Regions from separate parts of the Homo sapiens genome. Here all the other regions are linked to region 4. The links come from fine-mapping of genetic effects on gene expression. A gene starts in region 4. Each other region holds a variant in brackets. All regions are shown on one strand. Distances are between the middles of the regions.

What was found. PIP is the estimated chance that this variant, and not a neighbour inherited with it, causes the effect.
Region 1: its variant is fine-mapped to the expression of ZCCHC24 in whole blood (TOPMed, PIP above 0.99).
Region 2: its variant is fine-mapped to the expression of ZCCHC24 in whole blood (INTERVAL, PIP above 0.99).
Region 3: its variant is fine-mapped to the expression of ZCCHC24 in whole blood (INTERVAL, PIP 0.98).
Region 5: its variant is fine-mapped to the expression of ZCCHC24 in whole blood (INTERVAL, PIP 0.94).
Region 6: its variant is fine-mapped to the expression of ZCCHC24 in whole blood (TOPMed, PIP 0.98).

The regions. Positions count from the first base shown.
Region 1 is chr10:79,387,592-79,392,662 of GRCh38, forward strand. The region is part of intron 3 of ZCCHC24 (zinc finger CCHC-type containing 24); the gene reads right to left. Among named protein-coding and RNA genes, the nearest start is that of PPIF, 43 kb to the left of the region's middle. RefSeq lists enhancers at 2,713-3,298, 2,959-3,068 and a cis regulatory region at 3,224-3,724. The variant C/A (reference allele first, on the strand shown) is at 2,270.
Region 2 is chr10:79,410,162-79,415,232 of GRCh38, forward strand. All of the region lies in intron 2 of ZCCHC24 (zinc finger CCHC-type containing 24), which reads right to left. Among named protein-coding and RNA genes, the nearest start is that of ZCCHC24, 33 kb to the right of the region's middle. RefSeq lists enhancers at 2,737-3,247, 3,248-3,756. The variant A/C (reference allele first, on the strand shown) is at 2,884.
Region 3 is chr10:79,763,386-79,768,456 of GRCh38, forward strand. It overlaps NUTM2B-AS1 (NUTM2B antisense RNA 1), which reads right to left. Exons shown (of 7, transcript NR_120613.1): 6 at 2,886-2,939. Among named protein-coding and RNA genes, the nearest start is that of NUTM2B-AS1, 61 kb to the right of the region's middle. The variant G/A (reference allele first, on the strand shown) is at 2,186.
Region 4 is chr10:79,442,540-79,447,610 of GRCh38, forward strand. It overlaps ZCCHC24 (zinc finger CCHC-type containing 24), which reads right to left and starts at 3,085. Exons shown (of 4, transcript NM_153367.4): 1 at 2,656-3,085. The coding sequence starts at 2,901. It overlaps LOC105378383 (a long non-coding RNA gene), which reads left to right and starts at 3,702. Exons shown (of 4, transcript XR_946104.4): 1 at 3,702-5,071. RefSeq lists silencers at 2,938-2,997, 3,008-3,517.
Region 5 is chr10:79,569,596-79,574,666 of GRCh38, forward strand. No RefSeq gene overlaps it. Among named protein-coding and RNA genes, the nearest start is that of SFTPA2, 12 kb to the left of the region's middle. The variant G/A (reference allele first, on the strand shown) is at 2,735.
Region 6 is chr10:79,416,882-79,421,952 of GRCh38, forward strand. The region is part of intron 2 of ZCCHC24 (zinc finger CCHC-type containing 24); the gene reads right to left. Among named protein-coding and RNA genes, the nearest start is that of ZCCHC24, 26 kb to the right of the region's middle. The variant C/T (reference allele first, on the strand shown) is at 3,174.

The DNA of each region.
Region 1 (5,071 bases), 55 kb before region 4:
AAGCTGGTCAGGGCCAGCCTGGGGCCACATGCCCAGGAGAGGGGGCAGAACCTGGACTGCAGACCATGGCCCGGATGACAGGGGAGGGCAGCAGAGGGTGTGCTCTGTCCCCCTGGCCAGGCTGTGAATGGCTCAAAAGTAGTATACTGGCTTCTCCACCCAATCCACAGTCTTGGCCCCAAGAGGACACTCAGAGCGGTCTGGGAATGGAAGAGTCAGAAGGTTCTAGAAGGCAGGTGGGGAGACTGTGGTGGGAGGGTTCTGATCCAGGGACCACCCTTCTGCCCCTGGCCCAGGGGTCATAAAACCCATCCCTGTGCTCCCAGGCTTAAAGTCACAAAGCCAAGGCCTGGAGGGAAAGACAGGCACGTCAACCACATCACAAGAGGCTTTCAGGTGACTGGCTTCCCTGTCCAGCTTTCATCCTGGCCAGGGAAGAGAGGAGTTGGACTTCCTGTCAGACCTGGGCTCGAATGCCGGCTCTGCTACCTAAGAGCTGTGTGACCTTGGGCAGGCCACCTGTCCCCTCTGGTCTCCATGCTCCCATCTGTGAACAGGGATGCTGATAACAGCTTTCTCATGGGCTTGTTCTCACCAGACAACTCAATGGAGATAATGAATACAAACAGCCCGGCATGCAGAAGCTGTCTGTCGTTTGTCTTATCGGTGGGAGGGGGACACCAGCTGGTGGAGGGCTATCAAAATTAAGCCAAGATCCCAAGGTGAAAGGACCTAGGAAGGGCACGTTCCCTGCTTTCCTGGACGTCCCAGGGAGACCTCCAACAGCTCCTCCATCTGGGGCTTGGGTGCCCTCAGGGCTGGAGAGCTGCCTGCTGGCAGAGCCCACCGCTCAGTTTACTGCCTGCACTGTAAGAAGACTTCCCACCTTGAGTTAGAATCTGGGTCCCTGTCACCTCATCCTGGAGATCCCAGCCACACAGACTCTGCTTGGCTCCCAAAGGACGGTCTGATCAGTACAGTCGTGAAGTGTCCCCTCCAGCACACCAAAACAAAGCTGGTTTGCAGCCCCCACCCCCTTGACTGGCCAGGGCCTCTTCCTGGACCCAGTCTTCCAGGACAGGCCAAAAAGGCCAGACTCAGCAGGCCCCACACAACCCTCACTCCCCATGGCTTACACATTATGTGGCAAAGTACTGCCACCTAAGTCAGGCCACCTAATGTCGCCACCTAATGTCACCACCTCCCTGTGAGTGGCACAGGGAGGAAACAGGTCACAGATATATGGGGAAGGGAGTTTCCACAGATGAGGCAACTGAGGCTCCAAGACGTTAGGGACATCCCTGGGGCCTGCAGTGAGGAGGTGGTAGGTAGGGTGGCTGGAAAGCCACACATGCTGTTTCCAAGCCCTGCACTGCAGGGACATACTGCCTACCGCCTGCAGCTGGCCCCACTGGCTACACTGTATTGGGGCTCAGGGCCAGCTTGTGACCAGTGCCCACCCCAGACTGCAGCACTCCCTCCCAGCCCGTCTGAGTCCCTGGCTTTCTGTCCCCAGGGCAGCACCCTCCTGTGTTTGATGGAGGGGAACGTGTCTTCACAGGCACAGCGCTCTCCCCTGGGAATTCACTGGCACCTGCCAGCTGCACCCACCCTGACTGGCATCTGCCTTCTGAGTCTTCATCTCTGGGGCTGACAGAGGTTTTGCAGGCCCAGGACTGAGGGCAGAACCTCCATGGAGACTGAAGGGGTCACTGCCAGCTTGTTTTGAAGACTGTTCTGGAAAACTCTGTGTCTGGTGTCTTCTGCAACGTCTCCATATGACATGATATCACCAAAGTCAGATAGACAGAGCTTTGCATGCCAGCTCTGCCGCCTATCAGCTAAGGGCTGTTGGGAAGGATCTTTCTCCTCCACAACCTCAACTTGCCCTTTTGGGATCTGGGTGAGAGGTTAATAACATTCACTGACTTTTTCCTAGTGTGTGTGTGTGTGTGTGTGTGTGTGTGTGTGTGTGTCTGTGTGATAGAGAAGTAAATAAGATGACTGTCTTATTTTTATTTTTTATTTATTTTTATTTTTTCAGACAGAGTCTCATTTCTGTTGCCTAGGCTGGAGTGCAGTGATGCTATCTCGGCTCACAGCAACCTCTGTCTCCTGGGTTCGAGTGATTCTCCTGCCTCAGCCTCCCAAGTAGCTGGGATTACAGGTGCACACACCACCATCCATCTAATTTTTGTAGTTTTAGTAGAGACGGGGTTTCGCTGTGTTGGCCAGGCTGGTCTTGAGCTCCTGACCTCAAGTGATCCAC[C/A]CACTTTGGCCTCCCAAAGTATTGGGATTACAGGCATCAGCCACTGCGCCTGGCTGACTGTCTTTTTTAGAGACAGGGTCACTCTCACATAGGCTGGAGTGCAGTGAATCCTCCCACCTTAGCCTTCCAAGTAGCTGGGACCACAGGCATGCACCACCATACCTGGCTAATTGTTTAAAAAAAATTTTTTTATAGAGACGAGGTCTCACTATATTGACCAGGCTCATCTTGAACTCCTGGGCTCAAGCAATCCTCCCACCTTGGCCTCCCAAAGTGCTGGGACTACAGGTATGAGCCACTGTGCCCAGCTGCGATGATTGTCTTAAAGTATTTTATAACCATAAAAAGCTCCAGAAGACTTAGTGATTGCTGTGTGACCTTTAGCAAATCACTTAACTTCTCTGGGACTCAATTTTCTCCTCCATAAAATGGGGGCTAAGTCTGTAGGCTAACTCTACATGATAGGGTTGCTGTGAAGAGTAAATTAGTCTATGCAAAGGGATTAGAACAGTGCCTGGCACATAGAGAGCATTCAAAATGTTGGCCAGTATTGGTATCATGTGTTATATAGGGTTAGGGGCAGCATGGGGGCAGGGGAAACAGCGAAGTCCCGGGTGAAATGATCTTGAAACATCCTTGCCAGCACCCTCCTGGGCTCATCTGAGCTGTGCCCCCTCCTTGGCCATGACCCCATGGTGGGAGTTCCCTCTGTGGGCACGGGCTCTGGCTCGACTGCTCAGCCCTGCTTGGCCTGCCACTGGGCGAGGAGCCTGGGGAAGCTGTCAAGACATTCCCCTCGGCAGACGGAAAACACTCTGCAGCTGGGGCTGACTGTGGTGGAGGGCCTCCCCCACTCCCTGCAGCAAGGCAAGGCCCAGTGGTGTTTTCTTCTTGAGGGGACCGGAGTCGGTAGGGGGAGCTGCAGCTGGAGGCCGACAGGAAGCAGATGTGGCGGCCAGGAGAGTGGGGAAGTGGGGGGTTCTCCAGAGACGGAGGCCACACAGGTCAGGGCTCTGTGGGGCAGGAGAAATAAACCAGCCCTCTCCACCGCGGGGCAACATGGGGAGCACCGCCGCTGGGCTCTTCAAAGGCTCCCGACAGCTGGGGGATAGAGAGGCACCACTCTCATACCCCCTCCCAGCTTGGGAGCTCAGGAGAGGAGATAGAGCCCTGGGCGGTGGGAGACCTGAGTTCCAGGGCCCCTTGACACCAGCTGACTGGTCACTGGTCACTTGACTACTCAAGTCCTGTCTCCTTTTGGGGCCTCAGTGTCCCCAGTGCACACAGTAGGTGCTCAACAGTGGCCTAATGACTGGAAGAGGGGAAGGGCCCAGCCACACACTCTTGAGGGATCCTTTAGATTGGGTCCTGGGAGAGCTGATCCTGAATGTGGAGATGGGGGACAGGTGGTCAGGGAGCTGTGCTGGGACTGAGCTTGGCAGGATGGAGATGGCGAGGCAGGTGGGGCCGTTGCCAGCTTGGGGATGGTGACACAAGCCAGGAATGGGCCTGGCATTGTGGAAGGGGCATGGTGAGGAGCCCTGCCCAGCCAGAAGCTGGGGCAGTATCGGGGCAGGGGCTGAGGGCTGGAGCCACTGCGGAGACTGGGTTCCTGTGGGGCTTTGGTGCACAGGCTGGGCCCTGTCTCTCTGCTTAAGTCACAGTGGGGGTCGTAAGGACCCAGCCCCCAGGACTGTCAGCACAGACCCCAGCAGCCCCCATACATCTGAGGCCCTGCAGAAACTGGGCTGTTCCTGACTCCTGCCCCCAGCCAGCCACCATTATCTGCCTTCCCTCCTCCCCTGCTCCCTCCCAGGCCACTTATCTGCCCTTCCAGGCTCCAAGCTATCCTCCGGGCCCCCGGTCTACTGACCTTCTACCCCATCAGAGCTGTCTTACATCTCTCCCTCAGGGTAGCCTTCCCCCAGTAGCTCCCGGAGCGCTCTCCCCTCCTGCCTCCTCTGTCTGCTTGTCCTTTGCGGTGACTCAGTACACATGGATGGCCCATCCCACCCCTGGCTCCTCCATCCCCCACTACCTCATCGACAGTGACCTTTCCCTCCTACCACCCCTCAGCCACACCCTAGACTTGGGCTTCTTCAGAAACCACCCATCTCTGCCCCCTCGTTCTCTCCTTCCATTCCACTGGCTCCCAGACTCCACCCAGTCCACAGGCCCACCCGGCCTCCCTCTCCACCGGTCCCGTCTAGCTTCCCTTCCCTGCCGATGCCCCACGATGAAGCACGGTCATCATACTTTTACAAATAGGCCCACCCCCCAACCATCTGCCCTCTGGAGTGCTCGCCCAGCCAACCTTTGCCCCGTGGACCCTCCGTACACCAGGCCTGGCCTGCACCTGCCAGGCGAGCTGTGCTGGAGCAAGTCACGGAACTAGGCTGATGCCTGCCACTGCATTAGGATTGCACACCTCCCTGGGCCTGGGATGCGGCTGGGTGGTCCAGCCAGCTTTCCCTAGCAGGCTGCTTCCTTGCTCATCCTTCCTCAAGCCCGCCCCAGCCCGCTTGTCTCCCATTCACTGAGAAAACAGAAGCCTTGGATGTGAGGTTCTTCTTTGCACCATCCAACCCATGAAACTTCCTAATTACCCCCTCTTCTCCCTCCCTCCTGTGCCGATGGGTGAAGCATCCCCCGTTTTGCCCCTGCACCATCAGCCCTTTGCTGTCTTCTAGATCATTCTCACCAGACTGCACTGGGCTCCAAGCTCTACTATCTCCACAACACCCAGCCCAAGGGCTCCTTCCCAGTTGCGGCCACTGCTGTGATTCTCTCAACAATCAAACT
Region 2 (5,071 bases), 32 kb before region 4:
GCTTCATTTGTCTCTACTCAAGTTGTCATGTCCTCAGAGACACCATCCCTGACAACTGTCTTTGAATATGACCTGCCACCATAGCATATCCATTGGTGTCAATTTCTTTACTATTTGTCATCCTGCAAGATTGGGAACTGCATTCTTTCCTCATCTTTCTTGTTCACTATGGAATGTCCCATGCCTGGAGCAGCACCTGGCACATAGTAGGTACTCAATAAATACACGATGACCAGTCAGACAAAAGTAGCATGCTTGAACACTGATCTGGCCTTCTGGGATGTGCTCAGGATGAGCAGAGCCCCATGTTCTGGGAGCATCTGGCCAGCATGGCTGGGGAGGAGTGACGTCACAGTGGAAAGGGCCCTGTGGGGCTGGAGCAGCCTGTGCAAAGGGCTAGACCACGGGAAGCATGGAGGGCTTGAGGCTTGGAGGCCAGGCCAGTCCAGGTCCTAGACCATATCTTAGAGTTAAATATCAGCCCAGGAGTATGGGAAGCCAGGGAAGCGCTGAAAATGCGAAAGTCTGCCTGGCATTGTGAGATCTCTTTGGCTGCTGAGTGGACAGAGGGGTTGGACATGGGGGGACCAGTTAGGGGGGTGCTGCCACATTGCTGGGGAGAGGTGGTGGGGGTGTGGTCTGGGGATGGGTGGCAGAGGGGAGAAGAGTGAGAGACCCCTGAGATGGCAGGAGGTTGAGTCAGCAGCACTTGGGCTAGCCTTGGGGGAGGAGAGCAAGGACTCAAGAGCAACTCCCAGGTGTGTGGCCTCAATCAGCTGCGGGGCTGTGGGGGCTGAGGCAGGAGCTCCCCTCTTGGCCCATGGTTGCCCTGGCTCTGACTGGGGGACAAGGCCAGGGTGGAGCAAGGGAAGGTGATGACGGTGTCTTGTGCCGGCAGTGATGGACGGAAGGAGGACTGGCCGTCACTGGACAGCAGGCAACAGTGATGGATGGCAGCCTCATGATAACTGTTTGCCCTGGCTCCTGTCCTCAGGAATCGCCTATAAACCTGTCATGTGAGCCTGCTCAAGGTGCCCTTGGGGGTATGATCCACCCTAAAGCTGATTTGAAAATCACCTCGGGGCTGGTAAAAAGAGGCCTTGACCTCTGTCTTTAGATTTACAGTCTAATGTGGCCAGGCATCCTGGCATGGTGCTATAATTAAACACACACACACTCCCCTGCAGGTGAGCAAATAGGCTCAGAGCAGGAACCATGTGAACACAGGCCACGGTGGCAGGCCAGGGCTTTCCCCACTGTTCCAAGTTGCCTGCTGGGCCCCAAAACAATTCTTCAGAGCCATGAAGGAGGACTCAACGGAAGGGGTGTTGAGTCTGCAGCGGAAGAAAACCCAGGAGGGAGAGGATGGAACCAGATTCTAGAGGGAAAGGTGGCCCCAGCCTCCCAGGGCTCAGTGTGCCCAGTATATGCACAGAGCAGGACTGCCAAAGTCTCATTCCACTGCCCACGGGTGCCCCACTTTCCAGAGGAGGAGGCCAAGGCCAGGGGACTCCAGCCCACACAGCCTGTGAGAGGCAGGGCCAAGCTCAGGCCTCCTGGGATCCCAGGCCAGTGCTAGGGAGAGTCTGAAGCAACTGTGAGGACAGAAGAAGGGTCAGGAGACCTCCAGGAGGCCTCGGCCCCTCCTGGAGGTGCCATGCTCAGCCCCAGGACCCTGCCATCCCACTCTGAGAAGGTTTCTCAGCCCCAGAGACCTGCTCTGCCAGGGCAGGACCCCCAGCAAGTCCACCGTCCCCAGTCCCTGGAGCACCCCACATGTGCCCCTTACAGAGCCCTGGCTGTCTCTCCTGCCCTTCCCTGGCTCCCAGAAGCCCAGAAGGCCAGAATCTCGCGAGTGGGAGGAACCACGTGGGGAGTCTTGGCTTTTAGAAGCCCTGGAGCAAGGACTTCCTGCTACGCCTCCACAGGGGGCATTGAGCCTGTGCCCTGAACTGGGCCTGGGTGTGCACAGGTCTGCAGCTGCACATGCACACACGCATGCATGCACACAGGGAGCGAGCGGAACGCACCGTGGCATGACCTGCCAACTCCGTTTTAAGTCAACTGACAAGGAAGTGAGTGGCCAAGGCAGACCCATGGCTCCAGAACCCCAAGGGAGGTAGCTCAGGAGCTTCCTGCTAAGCTCTTGGGTCCCCTGGACTTGGCAGCAGCCTGCAGCGGCATGAGCCTCTGTGCGAGTGTGCACAGGTGCATCGGTGAGGGGCGGACATGCCCGTGTACACCCTCGCCCCTTGGCAGCCCCGCGTACGTACATGGTGTGGGTGGCTGTGCAGAGCCCTGTGTGTTCCACCCATCTCCAGGGACTGGGCAGCCACAGGCAGCTCCAGATTTCTAAAAGTGATAAAAATAGCCACATGGAAAATTGGGAGAATCCCACCGAGGGAGGAAAACAGGCAACCACTAGCATCTCTTCTAGAAAATGTCTTTCTATTTCCCTGGCCGTGGACTGCCTGCAGCCACGTAGAGAGATGGCCACCATCCATCATGTGGCCCTGCGTCCCCTCTTCTAGCTGAGTACGAAGTGAAACAGAGCTCTGGCTGTGCGGTCCTGGAGACCTGGGTTTGAATCCCAACTTAGCCATTACTGGCGGCAAGAGCTTCGACAAGTTTCTGAAATGCTCTGAGCCTTGGTTTCCCCCGTGTAAGTAGGGATAATAAGATCGATCAGGCAGGCAGTCGAGAAGCTTTAAGGAGCTCATGAGTACCAAGCACATGGCTGGAATTCAGTTAACAATAGCCACCATCAACATCATCATCACCATTTTCTGGACATCTGCCTAAATCTCAGGTGTCCAAGGCCTTTGGACTCTATCTCCTCTACCAGCCAACCTTCTGAAAGCCCAGGAGAGTCTGCAATCCATC[A/C]TTTTATCTCTGAAGGATTATATGGAAGTCTACCCAGACACCTTCAACAAACACAAGCCACTCATCCAAAATGGGTTCAGTGCTGAGGGGACCAGTGGGCGGTGGATGTGACCAGCCTCTGCCCCTCCCCTCCCAGCATGCTGGGTTTTCCCCTGGGGTCTCATTTAATCCTCACAGTAACTCTGTCAATTACCATCCACCGGCCCACAGCATGGAGAGGCCCAGAGAGGTGGAGAGACTTTTTCAAGGTCACACAGTGAGTGAGTGGCGGGACCCCTCCCCACGCCTGACTCCAGCCCAGCCTCTGCCTCCTGGCCTCTGAGCCTGATGTGCACTGGCACAAGGCGGGCACCCGTCCTGGGGGAGTGGAACGGAAGACTGTGGTCAGGCAGGCAGGAAACGGCCAGGAGGTCATGCGGGGGCAGGGGGAGCCTCTCCTGGGCCTAGTGAAATCCGCCAGGCTACAGGCTTTAAATGTGTAATCCTGAGTCACCGGGCTGGTCCCTGTCCCCTTGGAGGGACCTGAAAGTCAGCTATAGAAAGCTGATGGTTCTGTGCAGAAAGCCAGACCTGGGCCTGACTAGCTGGAAAGGACCATGCAATGACAACCGGGAGTTCAGGGCCCTGGGTTTGGATGCCAGCTCTATCAGGCATGTCACCTCCTCCTTCTGGGCCTTAGTTTTCCTAGGTGGAAAAAGGGTATATGTGCGTGCGCATGTGTGTGTGTGTGTGTGTGAGAGAGAGAGAGAGAGAGAGAGAGTTTAGGGAGGTGCTTCGGATGTGATAGCCTCTAATGTCTAAGCCAGTCTGACACAGAGAATTCACAGCTTTGCTGTGAGATGGGTGGATACAAGCAGCAATTCGGGGATGTAGCTGTATGTCCACCTGCTGCCCTCCTTGCCGCATGGCCACATGTGCCCCTCACACTTGCTCCACCTTCCAGTCCTCTACAGCCAGTGTTGGAGGAAGAGCCAAAGAAGTGAGAGCTCCGTGGGGTCTCTGTTCTCCCCACCCTCACCCCTTCCACCAAGACAGGCTCTCCAGGCCAAGGAGGTGAGGGGGCACGTGTCCCAGCTTATACGATCACCACCTTGTCTCAAGGAGACAAAGTCTGGGCCCAAGCCTTGGCGGCCAACTGCCCAGATGGAATGACAGGTCACAGAGTTGCTGAATTTAGAATTTTAAAAAATATTAGTGCCACAATAGCTTAAGTTCTTGGAGTCTCTAGAATTTGGGATAATGAATGTGTTGGAATTACAGACATGGAGAATCTTCATTTTAGAGAAGAATAATAACTGCAGTTGGAACACAGAAACACACGGAAGGTTTCAGAAGCACGTACTTGAGGTATACAGAATGATTATAGAATCTCACACTCTTAAAGTCACAAAACCAGAACACTCAAGTGTCAGAATCCTCCATTGTGGGAAGCTTCACTTCTCAGAATAATAAAGCTGCAGTCACATGACCTAGGGAATCTGAGGTTGAACATCTGGAACCTCTGGATATCTAGAACCTCTGGAATGTTCATTTGGGAGTCTCCCGGAACCTTGTAATCTTGCATTCCCAGGACCTCAGGAGGATAATTGTGGTTATGATCACCTGCAGCCACCACAGCTGCCAGAGCACCCCACCATCTCAGACCTGGCAATGGTGCTTTTGCCCAGCTGCACGTCAGAATTACCTGGGGAGCTAGGAATATGCCCTTGGCCAGGCCCACCCTGGATCTACTGAATTCAAATTTCTAGCACCAAAAACCAAACCAAAACCAAAAAAAACCCAGGTGGTTCTAATGTGAAGCCCGAGATGGAATCACTGATCTTGTCTAACCTCTCCTCCATATTACACATAGGGAAACAGAGACTGCAAGTAACTGGCCTAAGGATACACAGCACTGGTCCCCAGGCTCTTCATCAATGTCAGGCCTCCCAAGCCTCTACTTGCTTCCTCTACCTGGACCCCTTGGGTCCAGGTTTCCTGTCCCTGACTCACCGCATCTGTCTCAGAGGACTTCTGCCCCTGGGGTATTCCTAATGATCTTGGGTACCATGAAGGCTAAGACACAGTGAGACACACTGAGTTGCTAGGCTCACAAAGCCAGCCCCTCCCGTCCTCCCATTGACATGCTCAAAACCTCCAGGCTGCTTCAAGGGAGGTTGCTAAGGTCATCAAGGTCACTCCCCAGCCT
Region 3 (5,071 bases), 320 kb after region 4:
GAGAATATTTACCATGATTATTACACTGAAGAGCCTAACTATTCATTTACCCCATTTTTAAGATGTAGTAAAGACATTTTCCTCTGTGGAGGAAGCTATTGTGCAAGATTTTATCATGTATTGGCGGAAAATTTGAGTGTCTGAATTTTGTTTCACATATGTGTTCAGCTTTGCATGTGTATTTCTGTGTGCATATAGAACATAGAAAAGAGTCTAGATTAGAAGATAATGTACTGACAATGTTCAAAGTGATTATTTCATCACGCAGGTAATAAGCATAGTACTCCATAGGAAGTTTTTTGATTCTCTCCCTCCTCCCAGCCTCCACCCTCAAGTAGGCCATGGTGTCTCTTTTTCCGCTTTTTGTGTTCATGTGTTCTCATGGTGTATCTCCCACTTATAAGTGAGAGCATGCAGTATCTGGTTTTCTGTTTCTGCATTAGTTTGCTTAGGATAATGGCCTCTAGCTCCATCCATATTGCTGCAAAGGACATGATCTTTTTCTTTTTTATGGCTGCTTAGTATTCTGTGGTGAATATGTACCATATTTTCTTTATTCAGTCTACTATTGATGGGCATATAGGTTGATTCCATGTCTTTGCTATTGTGAATAGTGCTGCAATGAACATACATGTGCATGTGTTTTTATGGCAGGATGATTTACATTCCACTGGGTATATGCCCAATAATGGGATTGCTGGGTTGAACGGTAATTCTATTTTAAGTTTTTCAAGGAATTGCTACGCTACTTTTCACAATGGCTGAACTAATTTACATTCCCACCAGCAGTGTATAAGCGTTACAAAAGATTATTTATGAAGACAGAGATTATATGGGAGTATTCTTTTCTTTAGCATGTTCCTCTTTATTTTCTAGATTTTTTTTGCAGTGAGCATACCTTACTTCATGATGAGGAAAAAAATTGTTATTTCTCCAAAATGACTGAGCAGTTTGTATGAACACAATACTGCAATAAGTAATTACGGGAATTAAAAAAAAACTTTTTTTCTTTTTTGGAGCTTTCAATATTCACAAATAAATTGACGCTATGTGATAATATTTGTATTGCCTGTTATGTATCAGATACTTCTCCCATTTAATTTCACATACTCTATCTCCTTTAATCCAAATATAGAGAATACATGTAAATCCACTCCATGTTATTGTAAATAATGTTGACAATGAACATAGAGATGCATATTTTATAATAGTAAGTTACAAACACAAAGTAAAAATAGGCAGACAGAAAGCTATGCATAAAGACTAAAGGGAAAGCAGTCTAGATAGTGATAATTTTTTTCTACCAACTAAATTTACTAGTAGGAGCATGTATCCTTCCCATAATGGGAGAAAAAATGAACTTTTAATGATTTTTAACATATATGACAGCCATGGAACAATTCTGTGCTAACTTTGGGGTACTTATGTGCAGCATATTGGACATTTAGTGAAAAGAGAGACCACTGTGAGATGATGAAGCTGGAGAAGGCTTCAAGAAGCAATGCAGGGCTCCCTGAGTACTTTAAAGGAAGGGAAAGTTTCTTTAAGAATGTGGAAGGAGGACAAGGAGGACGTTATAGAAAGAAAATAACTTGTACAACAGCAACAAGAACTGGTCCATTTATAAAACAGGAGCTTGCTCAGGTGGTGGCTATGAGGATTAAGTAAGTTGGTGCACCTGGCATCATGCCTGAATGAAAGGTGCTCAGGAAATATTAGCCATCATGATGATGGTGCTGGTGAGAATGGAGAAGAGGGATGAATTCAAGACACAGTCCAAAGGACTAAATGGTAAACTTGTTCACAGTCTGGTTCCTTGAATAGAAATAAAAGTGCCAAATAGGCCTTCATTGTTTCTCTCCCAAGAGAGCAGAAGGAGAGTGCCCGTGTCAGAAGGGGAACAGGCTGGGGAGCTGGGCAGCAGGGGTAGGTGATGAGACAAGTTTGGGACACTCAGAGTTAAAAGTTTGGGAGGTAAAGGAAGTGTGGCCAGTGAGGCGGAGAACACAGAGGTGGCATCAGAGAAACAAGAGAGGGAAGATTTTTCAGGGATGTCATCAACTCTTCAGCCAGCGGAATGCAGGCGGAGTTGAAGAAGTGGAAAGAGAAGTCCCTCAGTGCTATACTAATTGTGTCACCACTTGAAGCACCCTGCTTTCCCTATTCTTGCATCTAATTGCAGTAC[G/A]CTACCATGAAACCAGTTCATTCTGTGCTCAATTTGCTGTTCTGCTTAAAGGGACTTAAACTTGATACCTGAAGGCCAGTTGCTACGGGCCATTACATTTATTTCCTTCCAGGCATTGTATGTAGATAAGCAATTAGATGAGGGAAAAGAAGTTGAGAGTCATTTATCATGGAGAAAAAAAAAAAAAACCATTCAACAAGGCTGTACAAGCAAACCTATTTAGATTGAAGAAAACATAACGTTTAATTCTCAGAAACAAATGCAAGCCTCGGTCCAAGTCTTCCTTCCCAAACCTTTGTCATTTAGGGATTGAGAAGCTGAGTTGGGTGAAAGGTTGAATAGAAAACAAAAAGGAAAGCTAGAAACACGCTGAGCTCATGGAGATGCAGCTTCTTCTGTAGCTCCTAAAGCCCAGCTGAGGTATCATCTAATGAGAATTCTCTCTATGCCAGGCACTGCGCTAAGCATTTCACATCATTAACCAATGTGAGTTTTAGGCAACCCCGAAGCAGGCAGTCTGTTCATCCCAATTGCAGCTGAGAAACAGGGTGAGTGAGGCCAAGCAGCTGGCCCAAGGTCCCCTGCCTGGTAAGTGGCACAGCCTGCAGCCCTGCCAGGTGGTCCTGCTAACCAAGCCGGCGCTTTTCTGTCACCATGCCGTATCGCCTCCCGTACTATCAAAATGTACTATCAAATTTACCTCAAAAGAAAACCCTCTGTCTTCTGAGAAGCTCCGGAAGGTCCAACACGTTGCCTGCCAACAAAAAAACATGAAGAGTTAAAAATTAGCTATCGTACGTAAATTATTAGCCATTTACATTGTATGTAAATTATGTTTCATTAAACTTTAAAAATTAGAAAAAGATTTTCTTCTGGTAGATTTCCTTAAAAAAGTGTTACCTTTAAGTTTTACACTTAAGTGACCCATGTTATCTGTTTTAATGAATAATTTTCCTAATAGAAAATTATTATGTGGAAAACTACGACGGTAGCGGGTGGCAATTTAGGATAAAAAGTGATCAAGTGAACTCAGGACAGCGAACTCTTTCTAACTGCGCACAAATATAACTGTCTATTCTCTTCCTGGTGGCATCAACTCAAAATTTCAGTTCATTCATTTATTCAGCAAATATTTATAAACCAAATGAACCATATGAAATCGCCATTCTTGTAGGTCAAAAATGGTCATATGTGGGTAATTCCAAATAGTTCAACCTAATATGAAGAACCCTCTGTGTGGTAGAATAGATAATATCATGGGAGCTGGGAATATAGTCTTGCATAAATGGACCAAGGTCCTGCCTTTATCTTGCTACATTCTGGTGGTCTAAGACATAAACAAGCAAAAAGATACATTAACAAAATTATCCCAAATTGTGATAAGAAATAAACAGGATAAAATAATTAATAACTTACTTGAGGTGAATTGAAAGCTACACTGAATAAAGAGATCAGAAAAAGTAAGGTGGATGGAACATCAGAGGAAGATCATTCCAGACAAGGGGAGAGGCAGGTTGAACGTCCATGAAGCAGATTGAAACTCCTTAGCAGGGCCCTGCTGAGTGAGGGGACTTGTTATTAGGGGAGTTCAGAGAAGTAAATGGAAGTGAGTTTTGTAGGGCTTCAAGGACCCTGACAAAGAGTTTGAATTTTATTCTAAGTTAGAAGAAAGTCACTGAAGGCTTTTTGCCTAAAGAGTTGACATGATTCAGTTAATGTATTAAAATATAACTTATGGTGATGGGTACAGTGGCTCAAACCTGTAATCCCTGCTAGTTGGGAGGTTGAGGCAGGAGGTTTGATCCCAGGAGTTCAAGGGCAACAGAAGGAGACCTTGTATCTTTTATATCTATATCTATATCCATCTATATCTTATGGGTAAAGGAAATATTCTATATTTTTATCATAGTGGTTACATGACTGAATATATTTGTCAAAACTCACTGGAATGTATACCTAAATATGTGAATTGCTGCATTTTACTCTATGCAAATTGTACCTCAAAAAACCTAACCAAAAACAAACAAATGAAAAGATAACTCTGAGCTGAAGCCATTAAAAATTATTTATCTGGAAGCTATTGGTATGTCTTGTTTGTTTGTTTCCTTTTGGTGGTATCATTTGTTGAACTCTGCCTGCTTAAACTCTGCACATGTATTTTTTTTTGTAAAATTAAAATTATATTTTATGAAAGATAACTCTGGCTACTGACTGGAGAGGAATTTATAAGACAGCAAGACTAGAGACTGGGAGACCATTTAGGAGACTATGGCAAGAAATGAGACTATGGCAAGAAATGAGACTATGGCAAGAAATAGTCGTGGTGGTGATAGTGGAACTGAGAAATGGGAATAACATTAAAAACATAATTTGGAAGTAGAACTGACAAGACTTACTGATGGGTTGGATGTGGGCAGAGGGGGTAAAGAAAAAGAAATCAAGGATGACTTTTGGGGTGGGGGTGTCCACATGGACAAGGCATGGTTGAAAAGAGGGAACAAACAGTTCAATGAAGGGTTTGTTTTGGACTTTAAAATATTTGAGGCGGCTATTTATTATTCATCCAAGTGGAGGAGTCAAGAAGGAAGTTGGACACAGAGGCCTGCAGTTGAAGGAAGAGATGAGGACTAAATCTGTATGTCATCAGTATACATACGATGTCTTAGTCACTTTGTGCTGCACAATATTACAGACTGGGTAATTTATAAATTATAGATATTTATTTCTCTCAGTTCTAAGGGCTGGGAAGTCCAAGATCAAGGCACCAGCAAGTTTGGTGTCTGATGAGGACCTGGCATCTTCTCACTGTAGCATCCTTACATGGGAGAAAGGAGAAGAACAAAAAGAGCTTAGCTAGTTCCCTCCATCCCTTTTATAAGGTTCTAA
Region 4 (5,071 bases):
GGCTCTTGGCACAGGGGTTGGCGCAGACAGGCCGTGGTCAGTGGTCAGCATGCAAGTCACATCCGCAGGCACTGCCACTGGGCCTGCCAGGCCTCGCACAGAATGGTGATGCTCCTGGGCCCCCTGGGTCCCTCCGTAGAGTCCCCTCCGGCCCACACACGACTTGCTTCCTCTCCGACCAGCCCCTTGGTGGCATTGGGGTGGGGGGTATTTTTTCTTGCCTTCTCAGCCAGTTGCTATTTTGGAGCCATATTAGGTCACCAGCTAAGCCCTGGGCGCAGGAAAGGCCTGTCCTCAGGAACACAGCTGAGGCTTTGAGAGGGTTTAGGAGGCAAAGTGGGTGGGGGGTGAGGATGAGTGAGCCTGAAGCCAAGAGAGCCTTCCGGAAGTCAGCAGGCACAGCCCTCCATCACCTCCGAGGAAGCCACTGGCCTGTGAACATCAGAGAAGCCCCTCTTGACTCCCCCAGCCCTCTCTTGTTTGAACAGGTCTCAAATACTATAGATATACCATCCTGGGGTGTAGCAGAGACTAAATTTAACAGATAGGTAAGCTAAGGCCCAGAGAGAGACGGGGTTCCCTGAAGTCAGGTTGTGAAAGACATTTCCCCACCACTGCACTATACAGTATAACCTTTTCCTGCTCCTTTCACACTGTGTGACTTTATGGGGAAACTGAGGTACGCAGCAATGAAGTGACAGAGGGCAGTTCTCACTGAGCTCCGGTTGGGATCCTGGATGCCAGAAATTTTCAAAAAGCAGCACAACATCCTATTCTTATAGGGTACTCTTGATGGTTCCAAACTCCCAGGTCCTCTCAGGGGAGACCCACAGGTGGGGAACAATGCCACCATGGTAGGGGGAGCAGAGGGAGGCTAGAAGAGGTTGATTAGGGGTCCACACTTGACCTGTGGGTCATGTTCACCCTTCTCCCAGGGTGAGAAACTCCCGTGGGGCTCCCACAAGCACCCCCATCAAATCACCCACCATTCATACCCTCTATCACCTTGTCTGTTTACTCATCCGTGGCCCCCACTAGCCTGTGGCTGTGAATCCCCGGGTCCTGCCCAGAGCTCAACAAATGTTTGGTAAGAGAACAAACAACTGAAAAGACGCATGCACCAAAGAAACACCCCACAAACGGTCCTCCAGTCACTGGTCACCTGAAGCCAATTCCCTGAAGAGGCAGAAAAGTCTCTTACAAGAAAGAAAGATCCCCAGCCAAGAACCATTCCTCACGTGGAGAGAATGCTTTACAGTTTACAAAGAGCTTTGGCATAGAAATGCTTTTGCCTGACACCAAAGGGTGCACTTTCAGACTCATCTTCCTCCTCTGCACCCAGCCCCCTCCCACGCCTGTTCTACCCACCCAGGTCAACAGGTCAGCCTGGGTAGTGTTGGCCTTGGGCCAGCATTTTATATGTCCATGCCTCCCCTAGTAAATAATGGCAGAGTTGAACTCAAGGGCGACCCTCTGCCTCCCTCTCTTACCCCCAGCACACCCTTGCGTACATAGGCTTTCCTCCCCAACCCATTCAGGACTCTGACTCTCCTAAAACTCACCGGTGTGCCCAGGTCTGGAAGGAAAGTGACCCCCATGTGTGTCCTCCCCCGAACACACCTCTTGCATCTTTGCAGAGAAAACCCCCACAAGGGGAGGAAGTGAAGGCCACAGATGGGTGTCTGAAATTCCCAAATGAGGCAGGAGTAAATGGAGGGAGGGGAGGAGTCCAGCCCACGGAAAGGAGTGGTATCTGGGCAGGCCCTGGAGACTCTTCAAAAAGGGCTGGGAGGTGGTGGCGATCTGTGTATTTATCTTGCTGGCAAAGAGGCGCTGCCCAGTCAACTTTGTAACTGAATCCACCAAACAGGCAGACTTTGCAACACAGCCGGCCCAGGTTTCTGCAGAAGGCGCTGGGCAGCTGGAACCTCTCCCCCCCCCTTTCTAGCCCCCCTCCCAAGAGCTCAAGAGGATTTCCCTTTCATTTCCTTCGAGGCTGGGAGGGCTGGGGACAGCGCAGTCTGTGGGGTCAAGCCCTCAGAAACCACTTCCTATGTGGCTGGGGGAGGGCGAGCAGCTGGAGGACGTATCTGGGGTCCCCGAGTGAGAACAGCAGGAGAAGCCCTCTGGGCAGTCACTGCTCTCCAGGGTGCCTTTCGGGTCGGGAACCGCAGAGGTCGGAGAAAAGATTTTAGGCCCTTCCAGAGGAGCTCCGAGCAGAATCTGCACTCTCGGTCCCAGCCCGCGGTGGCCAGGACGAGGATAAGGTTGGGCGTGAGAAGGACACTTCGAAGGGGCTCCCCGCCCAGGCCGCACCCCAGCTGTCTGAAGAAAATCCGGAGACAACCCCTCCTCAACTCCCTCCCCCAACCCCTTTGGAGCAGGGCTGCCCTGGCAGGGAGAGGGGGCGGGAGAGCTCCGCCCCGGCCTGCATTGCTCCAGCCCGGGCTCAGCCGGGAGGTGACGCGCACCCGGCACCCCGGGGACTTCGGGCGGCGAGTTTGGCAGAGTTGAACGAAGCCAAGCCAAGCCGGGCCCGGCAATGCGGAGCCGGGCCGCGCCAGGCCAGGAAGAGCGGGTCAGACAGGGAACGGCCCGCCACGGTGGGGCGGTGGGGCGGTGGGGCGGTGGGCGGGGGCGCGCGGGGGCACCCACCTCTCCGCGCTGCAGCTGGAAGAAGCTGTTGAGATAGCTGGAGTGCAGGGGCGAGCCCAGCTGCTCGGGGCGGCCCTTGCCGAAGGCCAGCTCCGGGGGTGCGGCGCCGGCGGTCGGCTCGGGCCGGAAGGCATCGAAGGCGCTAGCCTGGTGCGTGTCCTGCAGCGACAGGTAGACCCAGTTGAGCAGCTGGGCGGGCTGGTACACCGAGGCGGCGCTCGTGTCGATGGCCGACAGCAGGCTCATTTTGTGGCGGCGGTGCCGGCCCCTCCCCGGCCGCCCGCTCGCGGCCCCCCTCCGCAGCGGAGGGGCGGGCACCGGGGAGCCTGTGCCCACTGCCCGCCTCCCGAGCCCCGACGGTGATCGCCCCGCGCCCTGCGCCCCGCGCGCTGCCCGCAGCCGCTGCCGCTGCCGCCGCCTCCCCCCGACTGCGGCCCCGGCGCGCGCAGGCGGTGGAAGGAGGCAGCGAAAGTTGGGCAGGAAACTTTTGGCCCCGCCCCTCCGCCCCGCCCACTGCGTCCCGCCCCGCCCGGCGATCCGCTATCTGCCTCGCGGCTGACCCCTCCAGCGGCGGCTCCGGGGGTGGGGTCCACGATGCCCCGCCGCCCACTCCCTGCCCCGCCTGGCACTGTCCTCGCCCTGCATTGGCTGTCTCGTTGAATATGAACCGTCAGGGGTGGGGAGAGAGGGGAGTGAGGCTCATCTGCATATGCAGCACGGCGCGGGCCCGCCCATGCGAGGCCCCGCCCAAGCCCCACCTCGTCCCAGCCCGGCCAACCCAGCTCCCCGAGCTGCCGGGAGCTCAGTGCAGCCCCGGCCTAATCAATTTCGTCTCCCTCTGTCGTCAGCGCTCTTGTCTCGTTCTTTCCAAATCCTCTGCAATTGTTTTTCACTCACTTTTCCTTTCCTATTTTCCCTCCTTTCTCATACTCCTTCTTTCTCTCTCTCTTAGACTAGTACTAGTCTCCTGTGTCCGTCGTCCTTGTATGTGGCGCCCTCCGTGTGTGTGTGTGTGTGTGTGTGTGTGTGTATGTCCTTCTCTTTCTCTCACTCTTCTTGTCTCCTTTCTTCTATTTCCGTCTGGTCTGATGTTTCTCCCTGTCTCTCCCGCTCCTCTCTCAGACGCGTGTACACAGACGCACACACTTCTAACTCCCTCCTCTCGCTATCACCATCGGACCCTCCCCCTCCTACTTAATTCCTTCCATCTGCAGAATCACTTTGCGGGCCGGCTGCGCCAAGGGGGGCCCGGGTTCCTGCCCCAGGAAAGACTCCCCGCCCCCTCCCCCCCCCCTTCTCCTATTTCTGCTCTGGGCCCGCCTCGCTTCTCGACCCTCTTCCTCCACCCCGGCTCCAGCCCTAGCCCGCCCCGGTGCCTTGGCGAGTCGCCAGGACACCAGCCTGGGCCGGGGGAGCTCGGGAAAGCGGCTGTCACCCATCTCGCTGGGACAACTCAGCTAGTCCAAGACTGCCTGGAGGGAGCCCCGCCCCCGCCTCCGCCTCCGCCTGACGCCCCAGGAAGCCCCGGGGCCTTCACCGTCTCTTTCTCCGGGTGGTCTTTGCTGCGCCAGCACCGGGGACCTAGCCCAGAGGAACTCACCGCCTGGCTGGGACCGAGTCACCTCTCCCACTTTCAGTCTGGCTCTGGAGCCATTCCGCCCAGCGTTGGAGTGCCAGCTTGGCCACCGTCCAGCGGAATGACCTCTGCATGACGCCTAACCTCTGCGAGCAAGCCTGTTTTCTCCTCTGTAAAATGGGAGCAGTCATCCTCCCGCCGCCGGGGACATTTGTGTGCTTCCCAGCTTGGGTTTGGTAAGCGGAAGATATTCCATAAAGGACAGCTCTTCCCCGCCACCCACTCCACGAGTTACTCACATCACCTGCAGGGCACCTAACCACATCTATGGTCGCTCGCACCACGAAGGCCTTCAGTGATGACCAAATGCCACCCTTTTTCACCAACCAAGAGGCCCTTGGATCTCAGATCTCCATCTTGTCTATCAATTTGCAGTTATTAATACAAACGACAGCATATGTATCAATCATGTCTTCATATTTTCATTCATCAAGAACACATCTATACAGTACCCTTTATATTTTTAAACAGTATTAAACCTATTTGTTTAAAGAGTAGGTACACGGTTCTTGCAAATGGCTCACCTGTAATCCCAGCACTTTGGGAGGCCAAGGCAGACAGACTGCTTGAGCCCAGGAGTTCCAGACAAGCCCTGGAAACATGGCAAAACCTCATCTCTACAAAAAAATGCAAAAATTAGCCGGGCGTAGTGGCGCATGCCTGTGGTCCCAGTTACTCAGGAGGCTGAGGTGGAAGGATCACTTGAGCCCAGGAGGTGGAAGCTGCAGTGAGTCGAGATCATGCCACTGCACTCCAGCCTGGGCAACAGAGTGAAACTTT
Region 5 (5,071 bases), 130 kb after region 4:
TGTCTCCAAAGAAATAGACTCAGAAATTCTCTCTCTCTCTTACTTTGCACCAAAAAGATCATACTGCAGATACTCTTCTACAACTAGTGTTACATACCTCAGACATCCAGACATCTATTCAAATTCTGCAATTAGTGATTTCCCTTACATCCCTCAGGCATCTTTTCAGATGAACACATATAGACCTAATTATAACTATACTCTTTTCTTGGGGGTTGCTTGTTTTTAATTTTGGTAATGTATTCTTCACTATCTTTTTAACTTTTTGGAAAAACTTGTGCACCATAATAAACAAAAAAGATAACAGATAAGTTTACATTTCAGTGAGTTGTTACAAATTAAAACCTATAAAACTACCAACCAGTCAAAAAGTAAACTTTGCCAGCACCACAGAGACCTTCTTGTATGGTCAGTTTCTATGCCCTCTCTCTTACCTATAGGAACTCATTATTCTAACCTCTGTTGCCATTGATTAGGTTCCCTGTTCTTGAAATTTATATAAAGGACATACTTATACACTAGGGAATTTTGGGGTCTGGCTACTTTGGATCGCCATTGTATGTGTGAGATTGATCTATGTTGTTGCACATGGCAATAGTGTGTTCATTGCTGACCAATATTCTACTAGATGAATATATGACAACTGGTTCTTTACTATGGTGTTGACAGACAGTGATTTTTTCAGTTTCAATTTAGTATGTATAATGCTGATGTGAACATTCTTGTACATAAAGCTGTCAGGTTATGAGGTTTTCATATGTTAAAATATTAAAGTATTAAAGTATATTCTGGATGGGATTCCAAGATGGCTGAATAGGAACAGCTCTGGTCTGCAGCTCCCAGCGTGATTGAGACAGAAGATGGGTGATTTCTGCATTTCCAACTGAGGTAAGTGGTTCATCTCACTGGGACTGGTCAGAAAGTGGGTGCAGCCCATGGACGGTGAGCCAAAGCAGGGTGGGGCATTGCCTCACCTAGGAAGTGCAGGAGGTTGGGGGATTTCCCTTTCCTAGCCAAGGGAAGCTGTGACAGATTGTACTGGGAAAATCGGGAAACTGCCACCTAAACACTGTGCTTTTCCAATGGTCTTATCAAATGGCACACCAGGAGATTATATCCCGCACATGGCTCAGTGGGTCCCATGCCCATGGAGCCTTGCCACTGCTAGTCCCAGACAGAACTGCGAGGCAGCAAGCCTGGCTGGGGGAGGGGCGTCTACAATTGCTGAGACTTGAGTAGGTAAACAAAGCAGCCAGGAAGCTCGAACTGGGTGGAGCCCACTGCAGCTCAACAGCCTACCTCTGTAGACTCCGCCTCTGGGGGCATGACACAGCTGAACAAAAGGCAGCAGAAACCTCTGCAGACTTAAACATCCCTGTCTGACAGCTCTGAAGGAGCAGTGGTTCTCTCAATGTGGTGTTTGAGCTCTGAAAATGGACAGACAGCCTCCTCAAGTGGGTCCCTGACCCCCACATAGCCTAACTTGGAGACACCTCCCAGTAGGGGCCAACTGACACCTCATACAGCCAGGTGCCCTCTGAGACGAAGCTTCCAGAGGAAGGATCAGGCAGCAATATTTGCTGTTCTGCAATATTTGCTGTTCACCTGTCCTGGTGAAACCCAGGCAAACAGGGTCTGGAGTGGACCTCCAGCAAACTCCAACAGACCTGCAGCTGAGGGACCTGACTGTTAGAAAGAAAACTAACAAACAGAAAGGAATAGCATCAACATCAATAGAAAGGACATCCACACCAAAATCCCATATGTAGGTCACCATCATCAAAGGCCAAAGGTAGATAAAACCACAAAGATGGGGAGAAACCAGAGCAGAAAAGCTGAAAATTCTAAAAACCAGAGTGCCCCTTCTTCTCCAAAGGATTGCAGCTCCTCACCAGCAACAGAACAAAGCAGGACAGAGAATGACTTTGATGAGCTGACAGAAGTAGGCTTCAGAAAGTCGGTAATAACAAACTTCTCCAAGCTAAAGGAGGATGTTCAAACCCATCACAAGGAAGCTAAAAACTTGAAAAAAGATTAGACGAATGGCTAAGTAGAATAAACAGTGTAGAGAAGACCTTAAATAACCTGATGGAGCTGAAAACCACAGCATGAGAACTACGTGATGCGTGCACAAGCTTCAGTAGCGGATTCAATCAAGTGGAAGAAAGGGTATCAGTGATTGAAGATCAAATTAATGAAATGAGAAGTTTAGAGAAAAAAGAGTAAAAAGAAATGAACAAAGCCCCCAAGAAATATGGGACTATGTGAAAAGACCAAATCTACATCAGATTGGTGTACATGAAAGTGATGGGGAGAATGGAACCAAGCTGGAAAACACTCTTCAGGATATTATCCAGGAGAACTTCCCCAATGTAGCAAGGCAGGCCAACATTCAAATTCAGGAAATACAGAGAACACCACAAAGATACTCCTTGAGAAAAGCAACCCCAAGACACATGTTTGTCAGATTCACCAAGGTTGAAATGAAGGAAAAAATGTTAAGGGCAGCCAGAGAGAAAGGTCAGGTTACCCACAAAGGGAAGCCCATCAGACTAACAGAGGATCTCTCGGCAGAAACCCTTCAAGCCAGAAGGGAGTGGGGGCCAATATTCAACATTCTTAAAGAAAAGAATTTTCAACCCAGAATTTCATATCCAGCCAAACTAAGCTTCATAAGTGTAGGAAAAATAAACTCCTTTACAGACAAGCAAATGCTGAGAGATTTTGTCACCAC[G/A]AGGCCTGCCCTAAAAGAGCTCCCGAAGGAAGCACTAAAAATGGAAAGGAACAACCAGTACCAGCCACTGCAAAACATGCCAAACTGTAAAGACCATCGATGCTAGGAAGAAACTGCATCAACTAATGGGCAAAATAACCAGCTAACATCATGGCTAAATGCTCCAGTTAAAAGACACAGACTGGCAATTTGGATAAAGAGTCAAGACCCATCAGTGTGCTGTATTCAGGAGACCCATCTCACATGCAGAGATGCACATAGACTCAAAATAAAGGGATGGAGGAAGATCTACCAAGCAAATGGAAAGCAAACAAAAAAGAAAAAGAAAAAAAAAAAGCAGGGATTGAAATCCTAGTCTCTGATAAAACAGACTTTAAACCAGCAAAGATCAAAAGAGACAAAGAGGGCCATTACATAATGGTAAAGGGATCAATTCAACAAGAAGAGCTAACTATCCTAAATATACATGTACCCAACACAGGAGCACCTAGATTCATAAAGCAAGTTCTGAGATACTTACAAAGAGACTTAGACTCCCACACAATAATAATAATAGGAGACTTTAACACCCCACTGTCAATATTAGACAGATCAATGAGACAGAAGGTTAACAAGGATATCCAGGACTTGAACTCAGTTCTACACCAAGCAGACCTAATAGACATCCACAGAACTCTCCACCCCAAATCAACAGAATATACATTCTTCTCAGCACCACATCACACTTATTCCAAAATTGACCACATAGTTGGAAGTAAAGCACTCCTCAGCAAATGTAAAAGAACAGAAATCACAACAAACTGTCTCTCAGACCACAGTGCAATCAAATTAGAACTCAGGATTAATAAACTCTCTCAAAACTGCACAACTACATGGAAACTGAACAACCTGCTCCTGAATTACTACTGGGTAAATAACAAAATGAAGGCAGAAATAAAGATGTTCTTTGAAACCAATGAGAACAAAGACACAACGTAGCAGAATCTCTGGGACACATTTAAAGCAGTGTGTAGAGGGAAATTTATAGCACTAAATGCCCATAAGAGAAAGCAGGAAAGATATAAAATTGACACCCTAACATCACAATTAAAAGAACTAGAGAAGCAAGAGCAAACAAATTCAAAAGCTAGCAGAAGGCAAGAAATAAGATCAGAGCAGAACTGAAGGAGATAGAGACAAAAAAACCCTTAAAAAAATCAATGAATCCAGGAGCTGGTTTTTTGAAAAGAAAAGCAAAATTGATAGACTTCTAACAAGACTAATAAAGAGGAAAAGAGAGAAGAATCAAATAGACACAATAAAAAATGATGAAGGGGATATCACCACCGATCCCACAGAAATGCAAACTACCATCAGAGAATACTATAAACACCTGTACACAAATCAACTAGAAAATATAGAAGAAATGGATAAATTCCCAGACACATACATCCTCCTAGACTAAAGCAGGAAGAAGTTGAATCTCTGAATAGACCAATAACAGGTTCTGAAATTAAGGCAATAATTAATAGCCTACCAACCAAAAAAAGTCCAGGACCAGACGGATTCACAGCCGAATTCTGCCAGAGGTACAAAGAGGAGTTGGTACCGTTCCTTCTGAAACTATTTCAATCAATAGAAAAAGAGGGAATCCTCCCTAACTCATTTTATGAGGCCAGCATCATCCTGATACCAAAGCCTGGCAGAGACACAAACAAAAAAAGAGAATTTTAGACCAATATCCCTGAAGAACGTTGATGTGAAAATCCTCAATAAAATACTGGCAAACCGAATCTAGCAGCACATCAAAAAGCTTATCCCCCATGATCAAGTCGGCTTCATCCCTGGGATGCAAGGCTGGTTCAACATATGCAAATCAATAAACGTAATCCATCACATAAACAGAACCAAAGACAAAAACCACATGATTATCTCAATAGATGCAGAAAAGGCCTCTGACAAAATTCAACAGCGCTTCATGCTAAAAACTCTCAATAAACTAGGTATTGATGGAATATATCTCAAAATAATAAGAGCTATTTATGACAAACGCACAGCCAATATCATACAGAATGGGCAAAACCTGGAAGCATTCCCTTTGAAAACTGGCACAAGACAGGGATGCCTCCTCTCACCACTCCTTTCAACATAGTGTTGGAATTTCTGGCTAGGGCAATCAGGCAAGAGAAAGAAATAAAGAGTATTTAATTAGGAAAAAAGGAAGTCAAATTGTCCCTGTTTGCAGATGACATGATTGTATATTTAGAAAACCCCATCATCTCAGCCCAAAATCTTCCTTAAGCTGATAAGCAACTTCAGCAAAGTCTCAGGATCCAAAATCAATGTGCAAAAATCACA
Region 6 (5,071 bases), 26 kb before region 4:
GTGCCCGGAACACAGTGAGCGCTCCCTGTGCGTGTAGCTGCTGTGCTGTTAATATGTTTCCCTTATGACGGGGCCCTGCTCAGAGTGGGCACCACGGCAGACACTGTGGATGGCGCACTGAAGCCACAGCAACGCAATGGCTCACACTTGCTGAGCACTCACTATGTGCCAGGTGCTGCGCTAAGTGATTTTCTGCCAGCCTTCCCCCTCCCCGGGATCACAATCAAAAGAGAATACAAAATACTAAGCCGTTTGTGCAGGGTGTTTTGGGAACACAGAGGGAGGACTGATGCATGGGGAGGGCTCAGAGGGCCTGCGGGAGGGAGGGGCACAAGGCTCTGTTTGAGCTTCACAGTCCCCAGGAAGGAGCAGAGGAGCATGGGCCCCTGTTGGGTTTTACCCCTTGTCATCATGCCTACTGCTTTGGGGGCACCCCTCCACCTCACCATCACCCCAACCTGTCAGGGAGAGACCTGTGGCTCCCACACAGCCAGGGAACTTGGAGGAAGCCAGGCAGGGAGGAAGGCCTGGGTTCACAGTGCCTCCTGCAGCCTGATTTCTGCCAGGGCTGGAGATCAGCAGGTCTACAGCATGTCCTAGAGGATGGACCCCCATCCGTTGTTGTGGGCAGAGGGAGCAGTGGGAAAGGCACGGCCTAAGGTCAGACTGACTTGGCCTGATCCTAACCAGCTGTGGGACCAGGGGCAAGTTATGTAATCTGTTACAAAAGAAAAGAGGAAGAAAGGATGAGAGACAGAGATGAAGAAAGAGAAGAAGAGTGGGCACATGGGCCACAGATGACATCCAGGTGAGTGTAAGAACCCAGCCAGCAAATGAGACGAAGGTGCTCCGTGAGCCAGGCATGAGGAAGGCCTGATGTCCTCGGGCTCCTCACCCCCATTCCATGCACATTTCTTCCCTGCACCTGCTGCCCCGTTTCTCTGAGCCCTGAGCCTTGGAATGGGAGGGAGTGGGGGCGGTGTGTTGAGGAGCCATGTCTCCAAGTCAGGCCAGGTCAGTGGTGCCAAGTCCTCTAACCCACAGGCTGGGATCTGGCCACCTTGCCCCAGCTGGGCCACCTCCCACTCCACACAAAGCCACTGGGAGCAGGAGGCACCCAACACAGGCTCCACCCTGGGCAGCCACCCCAGACATGGTGGAAAGGGAAAATGCTGCCCTCACAAATATGCCTCCAAGACCCCATGGCAGTTGAGGCAGGGGTCAGCTCACAGCAGCCACCAAGGCCTAAACACCCTCGCTCGCACACCTCTGATCATCTCAGCAAATGTGGCTGCTCGCTGGGCAGTGGAGCAAATGGTATAACTTCACAGTTCTCAAAGCGCGTTCACCTGTCTGATCGCCTCTGGATCTCACAGAAGCCCTGAGAGACAGGCTTCATTGCTGATGCCACTTCATGCATGGGGGTGTGGGGGCCCAAGGGTAAGGTCAACTTGGCCAATGTTGAACAGCTAGAGAGACAGCCCTGGGATGAGAGCTCGGGCCTTCTGACCCCAAGGCCATGCTCCCTCTGCCTGCCAGGCAGACACAGACCTCGCCTGGGAAGTGACCTCAGGAAGTAGGAGACAGACTTGTGCCAGGACCGGCCCTGGGCTAGGCACGACTCACCAAGGCAGGAGCACATGGGGCATAGAAGGGCATAGGGGCTGCACCATGCAAGAGGACGTGTTTGGGCTGAACCTGGGGGAGATGAGAGAGTCACTGGCTAAGGCCATAGCACAGGTGGAGTGGGGATGAGAAGGCTGAGCAGAGGTCAAACGGCCCAGGCTGGGCTACCTTCCAGGACTGGGGCAGGGCAGAGTGAAGCCCACCCAAAGAGGGGCATTCTCTGTCCCCTAGGGGCCAGATGGGGATGGGGGAAAGATGAGAAACCTGGTTGAGATTTCTTACCTCTTGAGGGCCTTAAAACCAGGTTCTGGGGAAGGGGTGCTGTCCTGACAAGTTAGGGTTCAGAGAGGAGAGCTCTGAGGCCCTGGATGGTTGGGGAAGACTCCCTGAGAGAGGTGGGCTCAAGCTGGGCTCTGAAAGGGGGATAGGAGAGAAGAGATTCGGGAAAGGCATTGCAGACTCGGGGACAGTGTGAGCAAGGCCTTGAGGCTGAGAAGCCCAAGGGGTGTGTGCATGCACGCACGTTTGCATGTGTGCACATATGTGTCTGCGTGCATGCATGAAATTAAGCAGCTGCAGGGGTGGGTCAGGGAGAAGGAGAGGGGCTCCGGTGGGTGTTGCTTCCCAGGTATCCGGGCTGCTTCTCATCTCCCTCACACCAACCCTCCCATCAGGTACATGAGCCTCACTTTACAAATGAGGGCAGATCTGGCTCAGGAAGCCCCACGGCCTAACAAGTGATACCAACAGTGAGGGCTGCCACTTACTTACTGAGTGCTTGTGGGATGCCAAGCCCTGCATTAGACGCTTTCCACACACACTCTGCAAGGATGGTGAACCCATTTTACAGATGCCTGGGAGAAGGTGGGCAACACGGCGAAGGACACACAGCTGGGAAAGAGCAAAAGTGAACTCTGAGTCCAGCTCAGTGAGACTCCGCTGCCTGGGGCTCTCCTGTTCTTACTGAGGTTGAGGGACCAAGGGATGTCCCAGCCAGAACCTTCCCCGGAGTCTTCACAGCAAAGGGCACTTGAGTTACTCCAAGACAAAGGAAAGCCATGTGAGAGGGGCAGGCCAAGGGCCTGGCACACTGGAGGCCCTTGGCAGGTGAGGAATAAATGAGTGAGTGAGTGAGCCTTTCTGGCATTCAGAGGAGGCCAGTCCCTCTGAGCTTGGAGGAAAGGAGAAATCAGAGAGGGCTTCCCAAAGGAGGTGACACTTGGAGCTATTCAGCTTAAGGATGCACTTGCTGTGCTCCAGCATTCCATTCACTAGGCCTTGCAGGTAGTTCAAGACCAGGACTGGTCCTGGCTCCTAGGCTCTGCCAACATCTCTGTCCCTAAGGCTCAGAAGCAGAGGGCTGGGAAGGTGAGGCCATTGACCCATCGAGATTCCTGGGGACTCCTAATTATCATCTGCAATTCTTCTAAAAGCAGAACTGGCAGCTGAGGATGTGAAACTGGCCCTCCTAGGCTCTTTCCTGCCAGGCAAGAGGCAGCAGGAAGGATATAAAAGTGGCTCCCCATGAGCCCTCACACTCCATGCCC[C/T]ACCCCTCCAATCCCCCACCCCTGCTCCACCCCCAGCAGCTGCTCCTAGGCAAGCACTTGGAGAGAGATTCCTCTTCCCTGGGCCATAGGGGAACTGACAGCCCACAGGCGGCACTGGGCACCTTCCAGCTGTGCATCGCCCCTCCTCCCACAGCACCCATCCTGGGCACAGCAGAGTCCCCCCAGCACAACCTGGGGGACTCAAAGTCATCTGGGCCTTCCCCTGTCCCCTCCCCAAGACCCCTGAGAAAGCACAGCCTTGTCACCTGGCCTCTCTGCAGCCCCTCCCAGAGGCAGCCCCTCCCTTAGGGAATGAGGGTGGGAAGGGAGGGCTCCAGCCACCTCTGTGGATCCCCACAGTGCTGAAGCAGTCTCTTAGAACCCTGGGACTTCTCAAGCCAGTTTGAAACAGCGGAATTGAGGCATAATAATAACGACAGTAGGCTGGGCATGGTGGCTCACGCCTGTAATCCCAGCACTTTGGGAGGCCGAGGCGGGCAGATCACTTGAGGCCAGGAGTTTGAGACCAGCCTGGCCAACATGGAGAAACCCTGTCTCTACTAAAAATACAAAAATTAGCCTAGTGTGGTGGTTCATGTCTATAGTTCCAGCTACTCAGGAGGCAGGAGAATCGCTTGAACTCGGGAAGCGGAGGCTGCAGTGAGCTGAGATCATGCCACTGCACTGCAGCCTGGGCAACAGAGCAAGTTTCTATCTCAAAATAATAATAATAATAATAATAATGACAGTAATTAACAGTCCTAAGAGTTACTACTTGCAGTGCAAGCAAGGTGCCAGGCACTGTTATAAACACTTCAGATAAAATAACTCGGTTAAGCTCACAACATCCCATGAAGTAGGATGTTTTAATATCTTCATTTTACAGAGGAGGAAACTGAGGCCTAGAAAGACTGAATGAATTTTTCCCAAAGGCACATAGCACTGCTGCTACAAGGCGGCGCCAGGGGTGGAACGCAGGCAGGCTGGCTTCAGGGCTGTGCTCGAAGGCACCTCACTGAAAGGAGAGGGCTTCGGCAGGGCAAGGAGGAGAGCCTCGAGGCCCGGACACTGGGTTTGGGGCACTACCCTAACGTCAGCATCTATGCCAAGCCACCACCTGCCAAACGGCAGGCACGACACCCCCAGCAACACCCATCCCAGCTGACATTCTCTGAGTGCTCACGACATTCCAGGTTCTGTGCCAAGTGCTGGAAGAACCTCAGCTGAGGCCCCTTGGCCAGCCAGCCCAGGCTCCAGGAGAACCCCCTGCAATGCTACCTTCAGCACCCATCCCCTGCTATGCCATCTGCCCTAGGCCCAGTCCTTCCTCAGTGGGAACACAGAATGATGCTGTCTGTCCTCCCTCTTCTCCCTCTCCCTTCCCCCTCCCTCCCTTCCTCCCTCCCTCCCTTCTTTCCTTTCTTCCTTTCTTCCTTCCTTCTGGATGTTTGCTAATGAGTAATGGGTGGCAGTATAACACTTTCTTTGCTAATTCCACTGTCTAACATTCAAAGGGCTTTTTGTCTGTGGTGTTACCTTTCTGCCCCTCCCTGTATGCATTTTTTATATTTATTTATTCATTTATTTTAGAAATGGAGTTTCGCTCTTGTTGCCCAGGCTGGAGTGCAGTGGTGCGATCTCGGCTCACTGCAACCTCCACATCCTGAGTTCAAGCAATTCTCCTGCCTCAGCCTCCCAAGTAACTGGGATTATAGGTGTGCGCCACCACACCTGGCTAATTTTTTTGTATTTTTAGCAGAGATGAGGTTTCATCATGTTGGCCGGGCTGGTCTCAAACTCCTGACCTCAGGCGATCTGCTCACCTCGTCCTCCCAAAGTGCTGGGATTACAGGCATGAGCCACCGCACCCAGCCTTCTATACATTTTTTTATGACAGG